Regions from separate parts of the Homo sapiens genome. Here region 2 is linked to region 1. Evidence: fine-mapped expression QTL. A gene starts in region 1. The other region holds a variant in brackets. All regions are shown on one strand. Distances are from middle to middle. Region 1 holds the start of FMNL3 (formin like 3). Region 2 overlaps FMNL3 (formin like 3).

The links. PIP is the estimated chance that this variant, and not a neighbour inherited with it, causes the effect.
Region 2: its variant is fine-mapped to the expression of FMNL3 in whole blood (TOPMed, PIP 0.98).

What each region holds. Positions count from the first base shown.
Region 1 is chr12:49,702,212-49,713,255 of GRCh38, reverse strand. It overlaps FMNL3 (formin like 3), which reads left to right and starts at 5,851. Exons shown (of 26, transcript NM_175736.5): 1 at 5,851-6,201. The coding sequence starts at 6,076. It overlaps LOC124902929 (a long non-coding RNA gene), which reads right to left and starts at 5,530. Exons shown (of 3, transcript XR_007063299.1): 1 at 5,417-5,530. It also overlaps the pseudogene COX5BP5. RefSeq lists enhancers at 5,268-5,417, 9,141-9,230, 9,251-9,340 and a silencer at 5,438-6,207.
Region 2 is chr12:49,664,065-49,675,108 of GRCh38, reverse strand. FMNL3 (formin like 3) reads left to right here. Exons shown (of 26, transcript NM_175736.5): 2 at 6,555-6,638; 3 at 8,902-8,982; 4 at 9,201-9,277. Among named protein-coding and RNA genes, the nearest start is that of FMNL3, 38 kb to the left of the region's middle. RefSeq lists enhancers at 450-529, 580-669, 893-1,591. The variant C/T (reference allele first, on the strand shown) is at 5,124.

The sequences.
Region 1 (11,044 bases):
CTGAGATGAGAGGATCACTTGAGCTAGGAGGTTGAGGTTGCAGTGAGCAGAGATCGCACCACTGCACTCCAGCCTGGGTGACAGAGTAAGACCCTGTCTCAAAAAAAAAAAAAAAAAAAAAAAAGGGACAAACTTCTTAGCTTAGCACAAGGCTCTTTTTGAACTTGATTTGACCTGTCTTTCTAGATTTATCTCCTCTCTTCCTGCTATACACCCTACTCTTCAGCCTCACTGAATTTCTTACTATTGCTCAAACAATCCATTTTCACCTGTATTGTTCCCCCTTCTGGAATGCCTTTTCTCCTTCCTGATCATCCTTCCATCACCTTCTAATCACACTGTTCTCTCTTTTCCATTTGGCACATCTATTCGCCCTTAAGCGCTGGCTCCAGTGTCATCCACTCCCCAGTTCTCTCAATAGCACTTGGCATGACCCTCTATGACAACACTTACCATACTGTTTTGTAAACATTAGTTTGAGAGGCTTTTAGATTCCTACTAGCCCTATTGTGAGCACAGGGAAGAAAGACACCTATTCATATCTGGATCTTCCTTAGTACCTGAAATAAAAGAGGACTGGATATATATACTTTTAAATAAACAAATAAGCTCCACAGACCAGACAAGACATAGACAAAAAATTAAACAGCTTTGGGAGGCCTATGCAGGTGGATCACCGAAGGTCAGGAGTTGGAGATCAGCCTGGCCAACATGGTGAAATCCAGTCTCTACTAAAAATACAAAAATTAGCTGGATGTGGTGGTGCACACCTGTAATCCCAGCTACTCGGGAGGCTGAGGATGGAGAATCACTTGAACCCAGAGGTGGAGGTTGCAGTGAGCCAAGATTGCACCACTGTACTCCAGCCTGGGCAACAGAGTGAGACTCTGTCAAAAAAAAAAAAAAATTAAACAGCACAAGGCAGTAAAGGAACCAAGAGTTACATATCTACAAGTTCCAAATGAAAAGTAGAGAAAACAAGAGTCATGATCATTTGAATTTGAGAAAACTCCAGGATGGGATATGAAACTTGGTACCCACCAATATAATACCAATGATCTTACACGGTTCCTTCAAACTGGGTCCACACTCCTCCGCTCTACCTTGCCTCTCCTGCACCAGACTTGGAGCTCTTTTGAAGTTGGCAGCAGGTCTCTTGTTCACCTTTTCATCTTGCATTCTTTCTTTATCTACCGGCATCTAGTCAGATGTTTTGCACATAAGCACCCAATAAACCTAAAGATTGTATTAAGCCTGGGTGGGATTTGGATAGATGGAGTAGAAGGAAGAAGAAATCCAGATCAGGGACGCAGCAGGAATGTGTTAGTTTCCTGTTGGTTCTCTAACAAATTATCACAAACGGTGGCTAAGAACAACACAGATTTATGATTTTATAGTTCTAGAGATCAGAAGTCTGAAATTAGGTCTAACAGAGCTCAAATTAAAGTGTTGACAGGGCCATGTTCCTTATAGAGGATTGAGGGGAGAATCTGTTTCCTTGACTTTTTTCAGTTTCTAGAAGCTACTGCATTCCTTGGCTCATGGCTCCACCTCACCCTGACTCCTGCTTCTGTCATCACATCTCCCTCCCTCATTTTGGCCTTTCCTCTTATAAGGACCGTTGTCATCACATTGAGATCACCTGGAGAGTCTTCTCATCTCTAGATCTGTAACTTAATCACATCTGCAAAGTCCCTTTTGCCATGTAAGATAACATATACACGGGTTCTGGGGATTAGGACATGGATACTTTGGGAGCCATTATTCTGTCTACCACAAAGAGCAAAGCCAGACATAAGAATGAGCAACTAATGTTTGGAGATGGACCTTTCCAGCTGAAGCAAAGGGTTGATTTGATTAGAAGACATTAGCGTTTAGAGATAGACCCTCGAATATCAGAATAAGGAGTTTTAGTTTTATCCTACAGAAAGTAAGCATTTAAAGGTGGGTGAGCAGGCAGTTAACAATGAAAGAAGTAATCTAGCAGATCCCCAAAGACCCTAGAGTATATAAATCTGGTGGTTATGCTTGAGGCAAGCAAAAACAGAATTAAAAGGTTAGGGACTAAGAAACCACACAAAAGGTGAATACACTGCTGTTCACTGTCCTATCGAGTTTCTTCTTTTTGCTAGATGTTCCTTGTGCATCCATGATAAATGGTGAATTATTTCCCTTCTTGAATTCTCAACTTTTGTCTAGTGGAAGTCTACAGTCTTGTTATAACCCCTCTGCTTAGAAGAGTCTGCCACAGCAGTTGGGAAGGCACGTATTTAGGGTAAGAAGTGGAGATGAAGAAAGGGGATAAGATGTGAACTGATTAATTTGTTCACTGATTAGAAGAGGCTGAGCTTCACAGGAAAGGGTTTCAATGGTTTGGAAAGACAGGGACTCTACCTCTTGGTTGTAAACAACAGGAACCCAATGCATAGTGAGTTAGAAAAAGAATTTACTAGCTTTTGGCTAGGCGCGGTGGCTCACGACTGTAATCCCAGCACTTTGGGAGGCTGAGGCGGGCAGATCACGAGGTCAGGAGATCGAGACCATCCTGGCTAACACAGTGAAACCCCATCTCTACTCAAAATACAAAAAAATTAGCCAGGCGTGGTAGCAGGCGCCTGTAGTCCCAGCTACTCAGGAAGCTGAGGCAGGAGAATGGCGTGAACCTGGGAGGCGGAGCTTGCAGTGAGCTGAGATCACACCACTGTACTCCAGCCTGGGCGACAGAGTGAGACTTCGTCTCAAAAAAAATAAATAAATAAAATAAAAAAATAAAATAAAAAAGAAAAAGAATTTACTAGCTTTAATAGCATCTATATGACGATGATTTCCAAATTTACATTGCCAAATTGCATAAATTAATAAGTAGAGCTGCTGCTTGTCGCAGGCATGATGGCTTCAAGGTTACTTTGCACAGCTGGAACGCTGGCCATGAAGGCTTTGAGGGCTTGCAGTCCCAGCGGGGTGCAATCGCAATAAGACATATATGAGTCTGAAGAGCAAACTCATTTATATCCAATTGCTTAGTGGATATCTTTACTTGGATGTCCAAAGGGCAAATCAAACTCAACATGGCCCAAACTTGTTCCTGACCTTCCCTTTCCAGTTCCCCCTCACCAAACCTACTCCTCCTATCACTTCCCCCATTTCAATTAGTGAAAACTCCACCATCTTTGTTGCTCAAGTCAAATACTTTGCAGTTATCTTTCATTCACCCTCCACATTCAAACTATCAGGAAATTCCATCAGCTTTACTTTCAAGTCTTTAATAAGGAATCTGACCATTTCTTTCCACCGGTACAGTTACCACCCTGGTTCAAACCATCTCTCACCCAAATGATTGCACTAGCCTGCTAACTAGTCTCCCTGTCCATACTTCTATTGGTTTGTTTTCAATGCAAGAGCCAGAGTGATCCCTGTTACAAAACATGTTAGATCATACCACTCCTCTACTCAAAATCCTCCAATGGCTACCTATCCTACTTAGAGAAAACCGAAGTCCTCACACAATAGCCTACAATATCCTACACAATATATGGCTTCTGGTTACCTTTCTGACTTCATCTTTCACTACCCTTTTCCTTGCTCATTGCACTCCAGCTACACTGGCATCTTTGCTGTTCTTCTAATACATCAGAGATAGTATGCACTTGCCATTCCCTTTGTCTGGATAATTCTTCCCTAGATAGCCACATAGCTTATTTCCTTGCATCCTTCAGATCTTTATCCAAATGCTATCTTATTAGTGAGTCCTTCCTTGATCATCCTATTTAAAATATTTATTATGAGGGAGGGGAAGAAGGAGCCAATGCAATGACTAGTCTTTATTGGAGAGAAGATACTTTACAGCACATTTTGAGCAATTAGTGCCAGGGCTCACTGGGCCAACTTGTGGGACATCAGCTTGTAATGGGTTCATAGTTAGAGCATCACTGGGTCTCGCCTTTGTGCAGCCAGAACCAGTTGACAGCACTGTTGTCCTCTTCACCGATGCAGCTCACTATTATCTTGGTGATGGAGGGAGCTGTTAGGGTCTTCCCTGGTGCCTGAAGCTGCCTTTGGGGGTAATATATTGTATGGGTCCAATCTCATACATGGCTGTCATGAACTCCCTCTCCAGCCCAGTCATCTGCTTGTCATCAGTAGGAACGCCACCTCCAGATGCCATGAAGCACACTGCAACCACCCCATTGGGACTGTAAGCCCTCAGGCCTATGCGGCTAGCGCTCCAGCTCTGAAAATTAACCTTGAAGCCATCATGCCTGTGACAAGCAACAGCTGTGTTTATTTATTTATTGAGACAGAGCCTCACCCTGTCACCCAGGCTAGAGTGGAGTGCCATGAACATGGCTCACTACAGCCTCAACCTCCTAGTTTCAATTGATCCTCCTGCCTCAGCCTCCCAAGTAAGCAACTCTATTTAAAATCTTAATGCCTCTTCCATCTCTATCACCTTTCAGTTTTATTTTTATTAACACTGATCACTAACATCTATACATTTTACTCGTCTAGTTTATTGTCTACCTTTCCTTCTACACAGATTGTGAATTCCAAGAGGACACAATGTATATCCTGTTTGTTCGCAGATGTACCTTCAATGCCCAGAATAGTATCTGGCATAGAATAAACTTTCTAAAATAAATATTTGTTGAATAAATGAATTAAAAATCTAGGTGATAACTTCAGGCATGGTTAGATCCAGGTTCTTGGCATGTCATTAGAATTTTGTCCTGTCTCATAGCTTTTCTCTCCTCTGCGCTGGCTTCATTCTCAAGCAGGCTTGATGTGTTACAGGTGATGATAAGACGGCCACCAGCGGCTGCAGGTTTACATTCTAATAATTTTGCAGCCTAAATGGAGAGAGAGTGAGTGCCTCTTTCCTGATTGTTTCAGAGAAAGCCTTGGATATATCATATTGTCTGGGCTTGGGTCAAGTGACAATCCCTAAAACAGTGTCCATGGGTAGAGGAGGAAAATGTTGTGACTGACTGGGCCTGGGTCATGCGGTCCTTTGGAACTGGGGATAAAATTCAGCTCCATTTAGACTGAGAAGAGGGGAGAGGTGGTTTCCTAAAAGAAAAGGGGGTGCTCTCACTGGAAGAAGATGGCGGCTAGACAACAAATTTCCACCGCAAATGTCAACGACCCAGCCGCCGACTGAGCCCAGAACAGCGTTCTTCTCCCGCCTCTCCATTTTCACACGCAGCCAGATGGTTAAGCTTCTCTCCTCCCAAACGTTTTTTCCCCTGCCTCTGTCGGGTAAGGGCTTCCTCATCCCTCAATGCCTGGTCCAACTATGATCTCCCTCACCCCGACTCTTAACAGGTACTATCTCTCTCCCTCTTCTGAGTATCCTGCTTGTTTCTACTTCTCTTGTAGTTAGTTTTGTACGCCATGCCTTGTATAATATTTTACTTACTTGTATACATCATGAGTTCCTTTTGAAAAAGGGTACGGTCCATTCCCGGTGTGTCCACGCCAGCCCCTCACGCCCTCTGGGAACCGCGGTGATTCGATGCCGGCTGAGGCCGCCAGGGAGCGCTCGGCGCCCGGCACGAGGCCGTCAAGGGCGGGAGGCGCTGTGATTGGCAGACGCGGCCGTCAATCGGGCGCAGGTGGGGCGGGCCGGGCCGCCTGTGAGGCCTCTGGGCGGGAGGCGGGGCCTGCATGAATGGGGCGCGCGTCGCGCGGGCTGCAGTCGGCGCTCGCGGGGGAAGCCCGAGTCTCGGCCGGGTGTGGGTGGGAGGAAGCGAGGTTGGCGGGGGAAGGGAAAGAGCGCGGGGGGCGGGGAGGGGCAGCGCCCGGGCGGCGCGCCGAGCGCGGCGAGGCGGCGGGTGTGAGCAAGAGCCGGCCGCCTCCGTCCGCCTTGCTTCGGTGCGGCTGTCCGCTACGCTGCCTCCGCCCTCGCCGCGCGCCCCCGCCAGCGGGACTCCAGGGAACCCCCGGCGCCCTCGACGGGGCCGAGGAGTCGGGACTCGGGGAGCCGGCGCTGAGGGAGGAGCCTGGTCGGAGCCGCGGAGCCGAAAGCTCCGGAGCGTGGAGGTGGGGGGCCGAGGCCCCTGAGGGGGCCCCGCCGCGATGGGCAACCTGGAGAGCGCCGAGGGGGTCCCGGGAGAGCCCCCCTCTGTCCCGTTGTTGCTGCCGCCCGGCAAGATGCCGATGCCTGAGCCCTGTGAGCTGGAGGAAAGGTTCGCCCTGGTGCTGGTGAGAGCTGAGCCCAGCCCCTTCCCCCGCGTACCGCCCCTCAGGTCCCGACGCCCGGGCTGGGACTTTGTGCTGGGCCCCCGTCCCGCCCACCCTTTCAGTCGGGGTCCCGAACGGATCCCGGCCTCCAGTGTCTTCCCAGGAACCTCTGAGCAGCCGCTGGCCGGCCCGGACAGCCCCGTCGGGGATCTCGGGACCGACGCCTCCACCGCTGGACCCTTAGGAGAAGTCCCCAGTTCGGGACCGTCCTAGGAACCAGGCTTCTCCCTCCTTCTTCCTCCCCCTTCTGCTGCCCTTTTCCCGTTTCCCCGCTTCTTCGCCAGGCTCCCCGTCCCTAGCATTCTCAGCCCGGAGCCTCTCGCGGGTGGGGGGAATTCAGAAGCGCGGCCGGCTCGCTCCTCAGCAGGCTTCCCTGAGTGGGGACACCGCCTCTCCTGCGAACATGGAGGCTTCCCAGGGAGTGGGTCCCACTCCCAGCCCAGACCAGATGTTTGGGGGGAGAGGGGGATGGGGAGGCGGCTGGCAGCTCCTGAAGGGGGTGGAATAAAGAGTATGCCATTCTGCTTATTTTCAGAACGGCCTGCAGGCATCCTGCTAAGTTAGAGTGGATTTGCCTGAAAGGCTGAACATGTGGATAAACCATTTCACTGGGGTATTTCTCCAAGTGAAACAATACACAAACCATCCCGCCTCCTCCCCCCCTTTTCACGTTAAGCCATAGTGACTGGTTTGTGTTGTTTAGCCTGTGCTTTTTAGTCTTTCTGTGGGTTTCAAACGGTCTGTATAAATGGGTTTTTAGAGCTGACTTTGGGATTCTTCTTTGGTGTGGGAATTGGACATTGATGTCAGTGGCTCTATGAAGCGAGAGGTTCTGAGCTGGTATCACCGGGAAGGAGCCAGAAAATATGTTTGCGCTGAAAATGAAGTTTTGCAGAGCGAAAACATTGGTAAACCGGGGTTAATCTTTGAGAAATTTGGGGAAATAGTTCTCACTTCCCCAAAGAGTTTTCTAAGAAGCAGTAATAATTCTGGCGTTATTGTTGGTATGGCCGACTCTGCCTTTGCCTCTGCCCATCAGGAGGGATAAGTTGTGGACTTAGCAGCCTTATTGGATTTCATCTGCCTTGGAATAAGGAGATTAGATCTGTTGGCAACAGTGGAGCTGTCTAGAGATCTTGGCCTCTCCGATGGTAGAGAATCTGACATCAGCCCACTGGCACCAGAGCTGGCTCAAAGAGGGTCCACAGTGTTCCAAGGGGAAGTGGTGTCGCTGGCACCTCTCTGCCCGCCAGCTCTGCGAAGGGCCAAAGGGATGTGGGCCATACATCCTGTGGCCCTCTGCATTTCCCCCAGCCTCCTCGGGGGATCGGGTGAGTCAGTGATTACCAATGTGCTGTGACCATCTCACAGGCTGAGGAGGAGAGACTGGGACTTAGTGGCCTTGAGAACAAGAGCCCAACTGTTGGGGAAAAGAGTGGGAGGGGATCTGCACTCTGGTGGGGGTGTGAAAATCCCCAGCAAGCTGACACAAGTTAGCTATAGAAACTGGGGAGAAAGGGATGGGGTGAGGTGGATTGGGTGGGAGGCTGCCTTAGGTGGGAGCTGCCAGGCCATTTTTTGTGAGAGCTCAGAACCAGAATCCATCATGTTCTCATTGGCCCTTGGTTGACCATTTCGTTTAGTTAGCAAACTAATGGCTTAATATTCACAAAATGCACGTGATGTCCTAGTTAACCAGGACACCAGAGCACCAGGAGAACCCAGGTCAAATGGGGGACTGGACCACCCACTTGCATGCCTTCCTTTCTGTATAAAATTTTGATTTGTTTCCTCATGCCTTTTGTTTTGGTCTTGTTTCTGTGTGCCTGAGCTGCTGCTGATGAAGGGTTGGAACAGGGCAGGCCAGAGCTAGTTAGTTGTCTCAGGAGACGGGATTTCACCTCAGTTTTCCAATACAGGGAAATCATCCCTTCTTGGGGATTTGAGTTCTTCTCTGGGGGCTCTTAAGTGTCCCTGTGTCCACTGTTCTGAAAGGTACCCTTTCTACCATGCTTTGGGAACAGTACTGACTGAGTCAGGTGTTTGACCCAGGTACAGGCTTAGGGGTATTTCCTGAACAGTCAGGAGAAGCATAGTGTAGTAGAAAAATCAAGGACTCTGGCTTAGCAAGTATCTTAACTTCTCTGAGCCTAGACTTCTTCCTCATCTGTAAAATGGAGGTAATCCTGTTCTGGTGAGATTGTGAGAATTAGGTGAGCCCCTGTATATAAGGTGCTTGGCACCCAGTAAGTACTCAATATAGATTATAGATTAGCTTCTTTTTTTTTTTTTTTTTTTTTTTTTTGAGATGGAGTTTGGCTCTGTCATCCAGGCTGGAGTGCGGCAGCACGATCTCAGCTCACTGCAAACTCAGCCTCCCGGGTTCAAGCAGTTCTCCTGCTTCAGCCTCCCCAGTAGCTGGGATTACAGGCGCGTGCCACTAAGCCTGGCTAATTTTTGTGTTTTTAGTAGAGATGGGGTTTCGCCATGTTGGCCAGGCTGGTCTCGAACTCCTGACCTCAGGTGATCCACCCGCCTTGGCCTCCCAAAGTGCTGGGATTACAGGCATGAGCCACTGTGCCTGGCCAGATTAGCTTATTTTTGTTGATGGTGTGAAACAGTCAGATAAACTGTTCCTTTCTCACCTTTTTCTTTCCTAGATTGTCAGCTTCATTATAATTGGTTAGGTTTTTTGAAAAAGCTATTTGGGAGGTTTGTTGAGGTGACATAGTGGTGTCCTGGTTAAGCTTATGGACTTTGAAGTCAGAGTGGATTCAACTGTTTCATCCATAGTCTTTGGTTAGAAGAGTGTTTGACCTCAAGCAAGTTACTTAATCTGATTCCCAGTCTTCTCTTATACATGGGGATAATAATAGCATTTGCCACATGAGGTTGTTGTGTGGATTTAATGAAATTGGAAGTCAAATACTTAGCAGAGTCTGGCATCTACTATATGCTTAGTAAATGGTAGCTTTTAAGTTTGTACCTCTCAGCAGTGACTCAGATCTGAGATCACTTGTGTTCCGAAAAAGGGGTTTTAAAGTTTAGAAATCTGATAAAACCAATTACCCTGTTGTGTATATCCAGTCTCGGAATATGGCTGCTGCTGTAAGCTGGAGGGCTTCCTTAGCCCCAAGTGTGTCTGTGGAAAACCCCCTGAAGAGTATCCTCGCTGGGGAAGTTGTATCAGTGCTGAGTCAAGACCACAGGCTCCCAGCCTTCTGTTCTAGACACATGATCTGTCAGCCAAAGTTGAAGAGCTTGAGATGAGGGCTATGAGAAGATTTGATGAGAACATTGATTCCAAGAATCCTAACCCAGCCCAGTGCCTTAATTCAGGGCTTCCCTACTAGTGTGCTGCAGATGGATCACAGATGTGCTGGAATACTGATCCCCTTATTCCTAGGGGCAGCTAAAGTTCCCAGTCAGTCCCCTCTGGATGGGATCAGCTTCTACCCCATGTACTGTAGAAACAGTAATATTTTCTAGGTGTGCCTCGATGGGAAAAAGGTTGTGAAGCTGCTGTGTTACACTGCTTCTTGGCATCCTTCCTTACCCCCTATCTGAGTAGCACTTCCCATTCTGTTGGGTATTGAGAAGTTTGGGGTTGGGGCAATTAATGGAGCTCCTCTTTATGAATACCAGAATGAGAGCCAATCTCTGGTCTGATACAGTCCCAGTGTGTTTTGGTCCAAACTAGATTACTACCCAAACTCAGTTGCTCAGAAGCTAGTATTCTGGCCAGTACTGGACTTTCCATAGAGAGGGGAGGCAGAGGGCTCTAAGGTCTTTGAAAGGATAGCTGTCTGTCTTTGTTGTGATTGTACTCTGATTTTTCTCTTTGTTGATTTACTACAGACTTGACATGGAGTCTAAAAGTTCTGATGCCAGAAAAAGCCCTGTATATCCCTTAGGAGGAGGCTTTCAGGGCATAAGGGTAGGGTTGTGTGACAGGAGCTATCCCTGCTGCAGTTTCTCCTCTCACATTTCCCTGGTGATGACTGACAACTTGGGGGTTTTTCTGTAAGTGTAGCATTGATGTGGGAGCTAAGCTGGCCTGGGTGCTAGTTGTCTAAGAGGCTTTGAGGGGCCTCCTTTGACACAGAAATGGGCTGGGAAAAACTTGGACTAAATATCAGGTTCCAAATCACCATGGTGGAAATTTTTTTCCCAGCCCTCAGGATTGTGGTGAATTAGTTCAGGCTAGAATAGAACTTGGGAGGGGGCAGGGAAAGGGCCTTTCACAGCAGCTGGTCAGAGGAACCTTCTTCTTGTTCAGAGACCCCACAGAGAAGACCCTAGACCACAGAGAGGAGTCTTATTCCCTTGACCTTCTGATATGACCCTGCCTTAGTCTGGGGGAAGCCTGTGTGTGGTGGGGAAGGGACTGATGGAGTGGACTCTGTCATTTGGGAATGTTTTCATTGCCCAGAGGGAGATTCAGCGTTTTTTTGTTTTGTTTTGTTTTGTTTTCCTCTTAAAGTAATACTTATTCTCTAAAGAAAGTATGGGACAATTCAGAAAGAAGAAAAGACTAAAGATTTAGGTTAAAGAAAAACATCCATATTTTCTCTAGTTTCTTTACCAAATGCAAATATTTTCTTAGTTCCTTTACCAAATGCAGCTGATGTGCTTTAAAACCTTTATATTTTTTTCTCTGCATAGAGTTTTATACAATGTTTTGATATTTGATTTATTTATTTAAGACAGAGTCTCGCTCTGTCACCCATGGTGGAGTGCAGTGACATGATCATGGCTCACTGCACCTCACTGCAGCTTTGAACTCCCAGGCTTGAGTGATCCT
Region 2 (11,044 bases), 38 kb after region 1:
GCCAACAGTGTGGCAGAGGAAAGAGTTTGAGGCTTTACCAACTTTGGGGACATGGCCAATATCCTTTGCCTTCTCAGGATCCGGTGGAGGAATTCTCTAGGATGAAGAAGAGGCCCCGGGGGTATAATTGTATTTAGAAAAAGCCATCTCTTTGTTTGAATGATGCTGGCCTTTTAGGACCTCTCCTTCATCTGACTTCCCTGGTGTGAACTGCAGAGCTCAACCAGAGACATCTGGTGAATCCATTTCTTTTTCTTCCAGGCTGCTCAGGGACTTGGCCCGTAACTGCTCAGCAAGTCATTTCTGGTTACAGAGTCCTCAGTGACCACAAAAGCACGTTCTCCAGACATGGTTCCGAGCCTGTGAGAGCTGGCTTTTCCCTGGCAGCTCATCACCAGAGTGGTAGCTTCAATTGAACAAAACCTGCAAGGCAGATCTAAGATACTACAGACACTTAAGGAGCACCCATTTTTCTTATGCCTTTTGTCATGTGGTACCTAAGCAATTTGTTCAGATGTCTAAGAGGGCAGCTGGGGCCTAGAGAAAGCTGTGTAGCTAGACTTGTACTCACATGCTTCTGTGTGTGGGGTCACATAAGGAAGGAGATGAGTAGTAATGGGGAGCTGCCCTGGGGAGGCTGTAGAGTTTGGCAGGACCAGGGCTGGAGGCCTAGAGTCCAGGGAGGTAACTGCTGCCTTTCATCCTTTATATTCTTGAGTGCTTTGGTGTGGTGGTGGGGTGGTACAGCTGAAGTGTTTGCCCCTACTCTATCGAGGCAGGGCAGGGGGTTGCCTGTCCTTCTGGCCAAGTGTTATTGACTGTTCTGTGATTTCCTTTCTGCCACAGGATATAGATCTTTGCCCAGAACCTTTCATAGTTGACTCAGCCCATTTCAGGCTGTCTGTTTCAAGTTATCTTCTCCAAACCCGAGCTCTGGAGAGGAGGATGGGAGGGAGTCAAAGCAAGGAGAGCAGTCTTGAGCTTTGTCTCCCCAGGTTGGCAGCGAAGCCAGGCTTGGCCTTGGTCTGTGAGAGCTGCAGTGAGATCTGACCATCCATCTGTTCCATTTCCTCCCCTGTGCTACCCCAGCCAGTCACAAGGCTGGGGAAAAGTGTGGGTGTTTGGAGGGGCTGCCGTACTTCCCATGTCTGGACCTTTTAAAATTTTAGCTCTTGGACCTTTGATCAAACTCTCTGATTTTTTTTGATTCCCTTTTACAAAGGATTGCAGTTTTGAGGGGAGTTAGAAGGAGCTGTGCTGGAACAATGAGATAAACAAACAGTGACGTGGAGGCGGCGGCAGCAGCAGTGTAGGCAATGGGCTGGGCCGGCTGGCCTGCCGTCTGGGCGGGCTGGGTGGAGGAGGACTCCCGCCCTGCTCACTGGCCAGCTGGCTTGTGTTAAAGTGCTGGCTGAAAATAACTCTCATTGTCTAGGAGCTGCTACTGCGGCAGGACTGGCTGTGGCCGCCAAGGGGCCAAGGCAGCAGGAGCTGGTACCTCCCACCTCCTTGGGCTCTTGCCCTTTGGGAGCAGGGCCCAACTGGCCACAGCTGTGCCTACTGCCCACCAGTAGAGACATGTGGAGGCCGTTCCTTACACTCTGTCCTTTTGGCAGCTAGTAATGGGCCTTTGTGCCTTGTGTTGCCTGCTTTGCCACTGGCTTGGGGCAGATCTGTTGGTTTGTGAGGGGAATCCTAGTGGGAACATGGGAACATGGGGTGGGAACACTGTGTTACAGCTCCTCCTTCAGCAGTCTTCTGGACTCCCAAATTTTGTGTCCACTTGCCACTTTCCATCTTTGCTCATCTGCTCAATGAGCTGATCTGTGGATGCCACGGAGGACTTGGACCTGCGGTCAGGGGCTCAGCAGCACGTTGAGAAGTGTGTGGTGCCCAGGACAGCACTCATTTAATCTGTGGGGCAGTTCTAGATTCAGTTTCTCAGGACTCCCTGTCCCCATGGGCTGAGTGTGGGGGCTGAGGCTACCACACTTGGGAGAAGACAGCCATAGGAAACCTGGTGGGAGGTGGTTCAAGAGGGAAAACATTAATAAAACTACCTCTCACTTTCTGTATTTGCTCAAAACAAACAGCCCCTGCTGGAGCTTCCCTAAAGCCTCCAGTTTCTTTCCCAGGAACATTACAAACGTCTCTCTCCCTGTCTCTCGAAGCTATGCCATTTTGGTCTCTGTTCCTAAGATTTATCATGATAGGGACCAACAAAAACAGTTGGGAATTTTTGGTGGTTCCTATTTCTGTTTTTTGGGTTTTCCCCAGGCCTGGCTCAAGAAGACTGTCAGAGTAGGGGCAAGTCCCAGAGCAGAGCTCACAGCTTTGAAGGAAACTCCAAACCCTACCGGCATTTCCCTTCCCCTGCAGTGGGAAGGAAATGAGGAGGGGCTCACTGGGCTGGGGGTGCAGAGTGGGAAAGGGAAGGGAACCTCTGCCACCAGAGCTGCCTCCCTCCTTGGCTTGACTGGGGCTGTCAGGGGTCAGGTGGAGAGTTAGGAAACCTTGCTGGAGGGACCAGGCCTTGCTCACATGCACCCCATTGTGCAGGGAGATTTGCCTGGCCTCAAACTGGCAAACAGAGCAGCCTTGCTGGAGAAGCACCAGCTCCATGCCTTTCGGCTTCTTCCCATTATAGATTTTTATTATTAGATGTTTTGCTGGTTCCCTGTGATTTAGGAATCGGTCCCAGAGTTGCTTTCAGTTTGAGTTCATCTTCCCCTTTTCCTCACATCTCCTATTGTGACTGTTTTGGCTGTGACTTACCTCCCTTACTTCTTCCTTGGAGTCTCCTGCCATGTCCCCCACCCCTCAAGATAATGATACCAAAATTGGCGCCTAGTCTTAGAGGAAGCCAGAGCAGGATCAGTGAAGGGATAATGGATTGCTCTGTAGTCAGAGTGTTGCGAAGCAATTGCTGAAGGTGGGATGGAGGCAGAGAGAGAGAGACAGCCTAGAAGCAAGAGGGCAGGTCCCTCGGACATCAGAACATGACACAAGATTTTCGGGAGGAAGCAGGCGGTGAGGGGGACTGTGTTGAACACCCACAGTGTTCCAGACACATACAGACATAAAATATTTATCTTTTAATCCTCAGCTAAAACCCTGTGAAGTAGTGAGATTATCTCGTTTATGGATGCGTTCACCAAGGCTCCATAACTCTGAAGAGCCCAAAGTTGATCTTGGGCCCTCTGACTTCACCCACATTTAGTGCCCTCTCCTTTCCAAGACAGCCACTGCCTCCTTTCTGCTCAGCAAGGGTCTCAATGAGGAGTTAGCAAGAACTTAGCTCAGCTTCTGCCTTCTGGGAGCCTACAGTGTCTGTGGAACCACTGAAGAAAAAATGTCAAGGAAACAAACTTTTGACTGAGACCGGAACTGTGTCAAATTTGCTACTTTGCTGTCCCCGGAACTCAGGAAGTTGTCATTCCTAAGGGCAGAGAGGCTTCCTTAGGACATTGGAGCCCTGCCAGACTCACACACATTATCAGGTAGAGGCAAAAGCCCTGATGCCCTTGTCTAGCAGGAAGAGAACTGTCCAGGCCAGGCTCTGGTTTATGCCCCCTTGGCAGGTGGCTCCCACTGGCAGCCAGTGACCCGTTTCTTCTGAGAATGCTGGAGCTTGGGGGAATTCCCCTTACCCACCTCCTTCCCTATCACACTTCAGCCCAGAAGAAGCAGAGAAGTCTGAGACCACTGTCAAGAAAGTGCCACCCAAAGCTCAAGACAGGAGGATATGGCTATGGTCAGACCTACTTCATGCCTCTACCACCCGTTTCCATACTTTGGGATCATTCCTTCCTGGGGATCTAGAGTTTGACCAGGTCCCTGCTGTGCCTCTTCCATGCTCTTAGGCCAGGACTCCCCAAGGGGGTGACTTTGCCCAGTTTTTCAAACCGAGGGGACCAAGTGTTTCCTCATCAGTTCACCTGGTGGAGAAGTATGAGCCACAGCTGCTGACAGTGGGTGGCTGAGGGAGGAAGTTGGCATAGACAGGATGTGATGTCTGCCACAGCAGTGACAGGCTGCCCCCTCCTCCATTCCAGCAGCTTTCTTCCAGGGGAGACAACAGAAAACTATTTTCATGGCACAGACTTAGGAGAAATGGTCAGATGGCAGCGATGTGTTTAGGATATGCACAGAGCCAGGGCCAGTCCTGAGGACTATTTCTGCTCAGTTCTGTCTTGAGTTCATCTGGCAGCAGCCTGGCCACAGTTAGGCTGAGTTAGGAGATCTACTCTGGGTTGACCTTGAGTCCTTGTTTTGTTGAGGCCTCTTGCTCCTGTCCTGCTGTCCACACGGGTATGCTGAGATTGGCCTTAACAAAGTAGTTTCAGAGAGAACATTCCAGGCTTGTGTTTGACCATCTTGCCATCCATCCTACATAGACTGTGAGGAGGACTCAGCCTCACTTTCCTGTGGAAGTTCAGGCAGATGCATAGTGCAGCAGGAACCATGGGGAGAGGTATGATGTGGGGCTTTCTTCCCCTTCTTTGTTTCTCTCACCTGCCCCACTTCTTTGGTCCTAAATTCTTCCATGTATAAATTCCAACTGAAGACTTCAACCCTACTTCCTTTTTGAGCTATAGTGACCTCGTTTCCAGCCAGTAGCTGGGCTTGTAGCTCAGACCTGGGACCTCTTCCACATAAGTTTATTATCACCTTACTGCCCCCACTAGATGCATATTGGGAGCTGGAGATGGTGAAAATAGACACAGCACTTTAGGGGCTAGATGAGTATACAGCTGGTTTAGGAGTATATCTGAGTTATGTTTATAATAAATAGATAATATGACAGAATAAATGTTTGGGATTTTCTTTTGGTTCCATCGAAAGTTAGAGGACCTCCTTCTAGGATTTGTTTGCCTCTTCTGGAATAATGCAGGGCCTATGTGACTCCTCAGGGACCCTGGATGCACACAGTTCATGTCCCCAGGGATGAGGATGCCAAGAATTGGGCAGAGGTAAATGAAGTGGTCATGCTTGGGTTACCAGGGAGTTAGAGCTGAACCTGGACAGTAGTTAAAGGAGAGAAAGATGAGAGGCAGCCTTCTAGGTGGCTGGCACTATGCTTAAGAAGAAGCTGAATTTGTGGGAAGTCACATGGGTGATCA[C/T]GCAGCTGCGACACTTTGGGTAGGCGATCATATTTGATTCAAGATTACGAGGGAGCAGGTACAGTGGTCTGATTAAAGTGTCAGACTGCCTTTATTCTTTTTTGTTTGTGTGTTTTGTTTTGTTTTGTTTTGTTTTGTTTTGTTTTGTTTTGTTGAGATAGAATCTTTCTCTGTTGCCCAGGCTGGAGTGCAGTGGCGTGATCTTGGCTCACTGCAACCTCCACCTCCCAGGTTCAAGCAATTCTTGTGCCTTGGCAACCTGAGTAGCTGGGATTACAGGTGTGCGCTACTGCACCCATCTAATTTTTGTATTTTTGGTAGAGATGGGATTTTGCAATGTTGGCCAGGTTGGTCTTGAACACCTGGCCTCAAGTGATCCGCCCACCTCGGCCTCCCAAAGTGCTGGGATTACAGGTGTGAGCTACTGCATCTGGCCCAGACTGCCTTTAGAGGTAAGGGCTGTGACCTGGAACAAAGACAGCCAGACTGATGAGAAGAAAGGTTTGACTGAATGGGGATAAAGGTAGGGAACGTAGCCTCCTAGCATGGGTAGGGCTAGTCCATGGATGAAGTCCTTAGGCTTCACTCACTCATTCTCTCGTACCTTATTCAGTCACCAAACAGTGGTGAACAAGATAAAATGATTCCTGGTCTGTCCTTCAAATAGCCTGTATTAGAGTGGCTTGCCAAGGGGTTAGGGTGCTTTGCTGTGTCTTAATTAATTGGGAGGTGTTTCATAAGAAATTTGCTACTAACAATTAAAGTCTGGTACTTTTGTGAATTTTTGCCTAAAAATTCTTTTCCAAAAAAATTTAAGCAGTTATCTTCATGCTAATGTTCTTCTCATTCACTTGTGTGCTGATATGGGCAAGAGGGTCACAGTTATAGCATCTACATAGGTTGTGGGTGGCTCAGGATTTGCCCATGGGAATGGATGTTGTAGGCAAGTTGCCCATCTCTCAGGTTATGGGGGAAAAGCAAACTGAAAAAAATTGCTGCTTTAACCTGGTGGGTTTTCAAATTTTTTGACCCATCTCATGTTCCCGTCACATTTTATGGTATGATGTATGTATATGACATATTTGTTTATATACATAAAATAGAAAAGAAACTAAAGCTTCACAAAACATTATTTATACTTCCGAATTCTGGTATCTTCTATCCTATTTTAATCAGCTCGTTTTCATTTAAAATAGAGTTAATTTTGACTGATTAAATTGATTCTACTACCAGTGGTTTGGAAAACATTGCTCAACCAAACATGAAGGGGAGGCTGGAGGACTGTTCTACCTTTCCAAGCCTGCCTTATCAGCGATGGAGTGTCAGGGTGAAGTCTGAGGGCCCAGTAGCAGAAAGGTGTGGGCAGTCTAGTCTTTCTCTTTTCCAGATGAGGGGAGGTTTCAGCCTTGTTGACTCAGGTTCTCTCCTCAGAGCTCCATGAACCTGCCTCCAGACAAGGCCCGGCTCCTGCGGCAGTATGACAATGAGAAGAAATGGGATCTGATCTGTGACCAGGTATGGGGTTTGGGAAAGAGGAGGGAGGTAGGGAGTTGTGTCTTGGGCTGGCTAAGGCTGTGGGGCCAAAGGCATTGAGTGCAGCCTTGGGTTCCTTGAGGAACCCTGGCCTAAGCTTGGCCTCATCTGTGTTCACTTTCTTTTCCAAGAGGATTCTCATAACAGAGACAGAGCTGGCAGGCCAAGTTCCCCTCTAGCTCCCACAAAGAGCTGTCTTGATTTCTTCCAATGGGCAATAGTATAAGGGGATTTGTGTAGATCAGGGGTATAGGATTGGCTGTGCAGGTTCAGGGCTATGCCCGGTAGGGTGCTCAAAGGACTGTTGATCTCTCACTCTGTCTTAGCCCTGGCAAATAGCAGGGTCTTTCTCATTATCTCAGGGCCTCTAGGAATGAGAAGCCCCAGACTCTAGTCTTTTGTTCCCAAATCTCAGAAGAGTCAAGGTCTGGAAACTCTCTCTGCATGAACAGTGTTGAGAGCTGGAAGAGAATAGAAATCATTACTTTGCTCAGAGTTGAGAGTCTTCTAACACATATGACCTGGCTCTTTCCCTTGCATGCATTTGAAGATCATGAGTCACGAGTCTGTGAAATGAGACAGGACTGTATGCAGGGCTGGGAGAGTTGGCTTTTACCTTTTTACATCTTGGTAGAGATGGAAGTATCTGGCAGTGTGGGTAGTGTGTTTACCCAGCACTTTGCCATGTACAATTTTATTATTTCTTTTCAGGCTCTGGGTGAAATAATAATAGGTAACATTTATTGAGTGCTTGTTATGGACCAAGTACTCAACACACTGAAGTATCTCATTTAATCATCACAGAACCCTCTGAGGAAGGCAGTGTTGGCATTTTATAGATGAAGAACCCAAGGCTCAGTAACTTGCCTAATGCTAGTAGGTGATGAAGCCAGGGCTGAGCTCAGGCAAGCAGATGCCAAGTCTGTGTTAACTGTTCTGTTCCACTGCCTCCCCAGGTCATGCTGCTTGACGTAAGCTAGTAGTATGCTTCAGAGATCTTAGTCCAAGTCCCTTCTCCAACAAAGGTCCATATCCTTGTGTTCTGCATTAAGAGGAGTTGGTTAGCACCTGCTTGGGGTTTGGAGAACAGTAACCCTTTGATATTGAGGGTCTTTAATTGATCTCTCAGTCTTTCCTAGGTCAGATAATTTCAGCTGTTTCTCACACCTTTCGTTTTTTTCTTTGATTTGTTTTTAGGTCCTACTCTCTAACATTATATCATTCTCCTGGACATTTTTCAGCCCCTCCACCCACCAGCTCTTCAGATATCTTGGTGGTGGCAGCTCTAATAGGACCAGAATGCTAAGGGGTACTCCCTGAGTTTCTTTTTGGGTCAGATGAAGGGGTTGGCCTAAAGTAGGACGTGGTCCCAGGTCCTAGGTAGAAGGGAATCGAGGGATGACCTTGCTGAATGCAGCCTTCAGTATTTGAGGTTGCTTTGGATTGTTGGGAGTCTGGGCAAGGAGCAGTGTTTGCAGCCCTGAGCTGTGTCAGCTCAGCAAAACCATTCCAGTCCCAACTGCAGAGTTCATTGCTGAGAAAGTTGGATTCTACAAAGCCAAGCTCCTCTCCCCTTGGCCTTCCTAACCCATATCCATTAGTTGGCCAGGCAGTGAACAGCATTTCCCAATCATATCTTTTTTTAATTTTTTTTTTAGAGAGGGATCACACTCTGTTGCCCAGGCTGGAGTGCAATGGCATGATCATATCTTACTGTAGCCTCAAACTCCGGGGCTCAAGGGATCCTCCCACCTCAGCCTAAGTAGCCAGGGCTACAGGCATGTGGTAGCCACCATGCCTGGCTAATTTTTTAAAGTTTTTTTTGTAGAGACAGAGTCTTCCTATGTTATCCAGACTATTCTCAAACTCCTGGCCTCAAGCAGTCCCCCTGCCTCGACCTCCCAAGCGCAATCAATTATATCTTTATTTTGGGTGCTGTTCACAACTCTGTAATCCCCAACATCTTTGTAGCAAGCAGCACACTTTTAAAATACTTTTTGACATAGAAAAACATTTTAGGCTCAGGGAGCACTAATTGGAGGAGGAGGAGATGGCAACAGGTGGTAACACCTGGGGATAAGTCAAGGAAGGGAACCTCAAGTTTAGGTGATATCTAGAGCCAGGTGACAACTTGGAGAGGCTGAGTCCCCCTCACACTGAACACTATGAATGCTCTTCTTCCTCAGTGCCCTCCTCAGGTCTCTGGTTGTCTTTGTGGATACGCATATGCATGTTTCCCTTACAGGAACGATTCCAGGTGAAGAATCCTCCCCACACTTACATTCAGAAACTCCAGAGCTTCTTGGACCCCAGTGTAACTCGGAAGGTGAAGTATGAGGCAGAGAGTCCCCGTCTTGCCACCCTTTATAGTCCTGTGGGGTTTGGGGGCAAACCCTTTGACTTGGATATTGGACATCTGTTTCTGAGCATTGGGAGTTGGATTTCAGGGTTCTGTGGCCAAGGGCCTGGAATGGCTGGCCAGTAATGGAGGGAAAGTCTATAACTGCCCTCTTGTATTCCCTTCCTTTCCTACCCTTTTTACAGAAGTTCAGGAGGAGGGTGCAGGAGTCAACCAAAGTACTAAGGGAGCTGGAGATCTCTCTTCGCACCAACCACATTGGGTGAGTTGGATTGGCCGTATAGCCTCTTCATCTGGCCCCAGGCTGCTGGCTGGGCACACAGGGTCTGGTGTCCTCTGAGGATGGTGTTCCTGTTCATCTTCCCTGCCATGGGGCAGAGTTGCCCCTTGAATGGCTTCTGGCTCCCCAGAGCTTTGGACTGGTTCTTTACTGGCTTTTCTACCCCCTCAGCTCTGCCAGCTGCTGACTAGATGTTTCTGGCAAGCTTGAGGCCTCTCCTGGGGTCCTCTGCCTGTGGCTTTGAGTGGAAGACATTCCCACAGCAGTTGAGACTGGAGTCTGCCTGTGGCCTGGTGCTGGGCCAAGCGAGGCTCAGAGAAGGCTGAGGGTGGGGAGAACATACTATATTGGGTAGCTGAGACCTAGTTCCCATTCGGTGACTATTTGGACTTTTTGGTGCCTGGAAGTTTATTTGCTTGTTTGGGAGAAGATAATCTTAGTTCATGAGCAGAAGCTTCCTTAAGCACCAGGAAAGATGTAAGGCACTGGGGGCAGGAGCTGAATGTTTTCTATATTCACAGACCCTGGTGTCCCCAACACATTGATAGGGCCCTTAGGAACTGTGTGAGTCTTTTTTTTTTTTTTCCAGTCCCTGAGTGGGAAACCAGGAATTGCTGAACAAGCAAAGAGCTAATGTGTAAGGTACAGTGAAAGAGGGTATTGGCCTCAGTGTTACGAAACTGTAATCAGCAAAGGTATATGCAAAGGTATATGAAAGTGAGAGAGAGAGAGAGAAAGTGTGTATATGTGTGCGTATGTGTGCTTATGCAAAAGGACAGTGAGGGACACGTGATGTAGAACTGCAGGCAGGGGTATAGACCTGATGGGAGGGCCTGGCACAAATGTCCAGTGCTTATGAGTGAGCAGTGGAGGCCCAGGTGGGGGTGGGGTGCCCAGGCTTCCTGACAGGGGGTTAGAGACAGCCAAATGACATCATTAGCCTTTCCCCTCCTGTTGTAGCAGCAGCCCTCATCCGCCCCCAGGGCAAGCCTTCCCAGGATTCTTTAGAGGGAGGGGACACCTGTGTGTAGCCAGCTGTAGCAGCAATCACAAGGGAAACAGCACAGGAGAGAACAGGAAAGGGATGGTTCCTGGCCTCAGTAACTGTGCTCTGGTGGCCAGAGTATGGCTTCTGTACCTCATCTGTGAATCAGACATTGAAAGTCAAGCTGCTGAGAAAGGTGTGGCCAAGCCTCTTCCTTTGTTTGGTCAGTCCTTCACTGACTTCACTGACTGAAGGACAAAGTGGCAGGGGCTGCTTAGTACCCCTGTGTGTGAGGGCAAGAAGGACACCGATGGCAACCCTGAGTGCTACCTGCCACCCTGAGCCCCCTACCACTCCGCATTCCTCCATAGGTCCCTTCTGTCCCTCTCAGCCCTTCTGTCTTCTTTTTGTTTATTTGTTTTTTAAGACAGGGTCTTGCTCTGTTGCCCAGGATAAAGTACAGTGACATGATCATGACTCACTGCAGCCTCAACTTCCAGGGCTCAAGTGATCCTCCTATCCCAGCCTCCCAAGTAGCTGGGAGCACAGGCACACACCCATGCCTGGCCATTTTATTTTATTTATTTATTTATATTTTGAGATGGAGTCTAGCTCTGTCGCCCAGGCGCCATCTTGGCTCACTGCAACCTCTGCCTCCCAGGCTCAAGCCATTCTGCCTCTGCCTTCCGAATAGCTGGGACTACAGGCGTGTACCACCACGCCCAGCTAATTTTTGTATTTTTAGTAGAGATGAGGTTTCACCA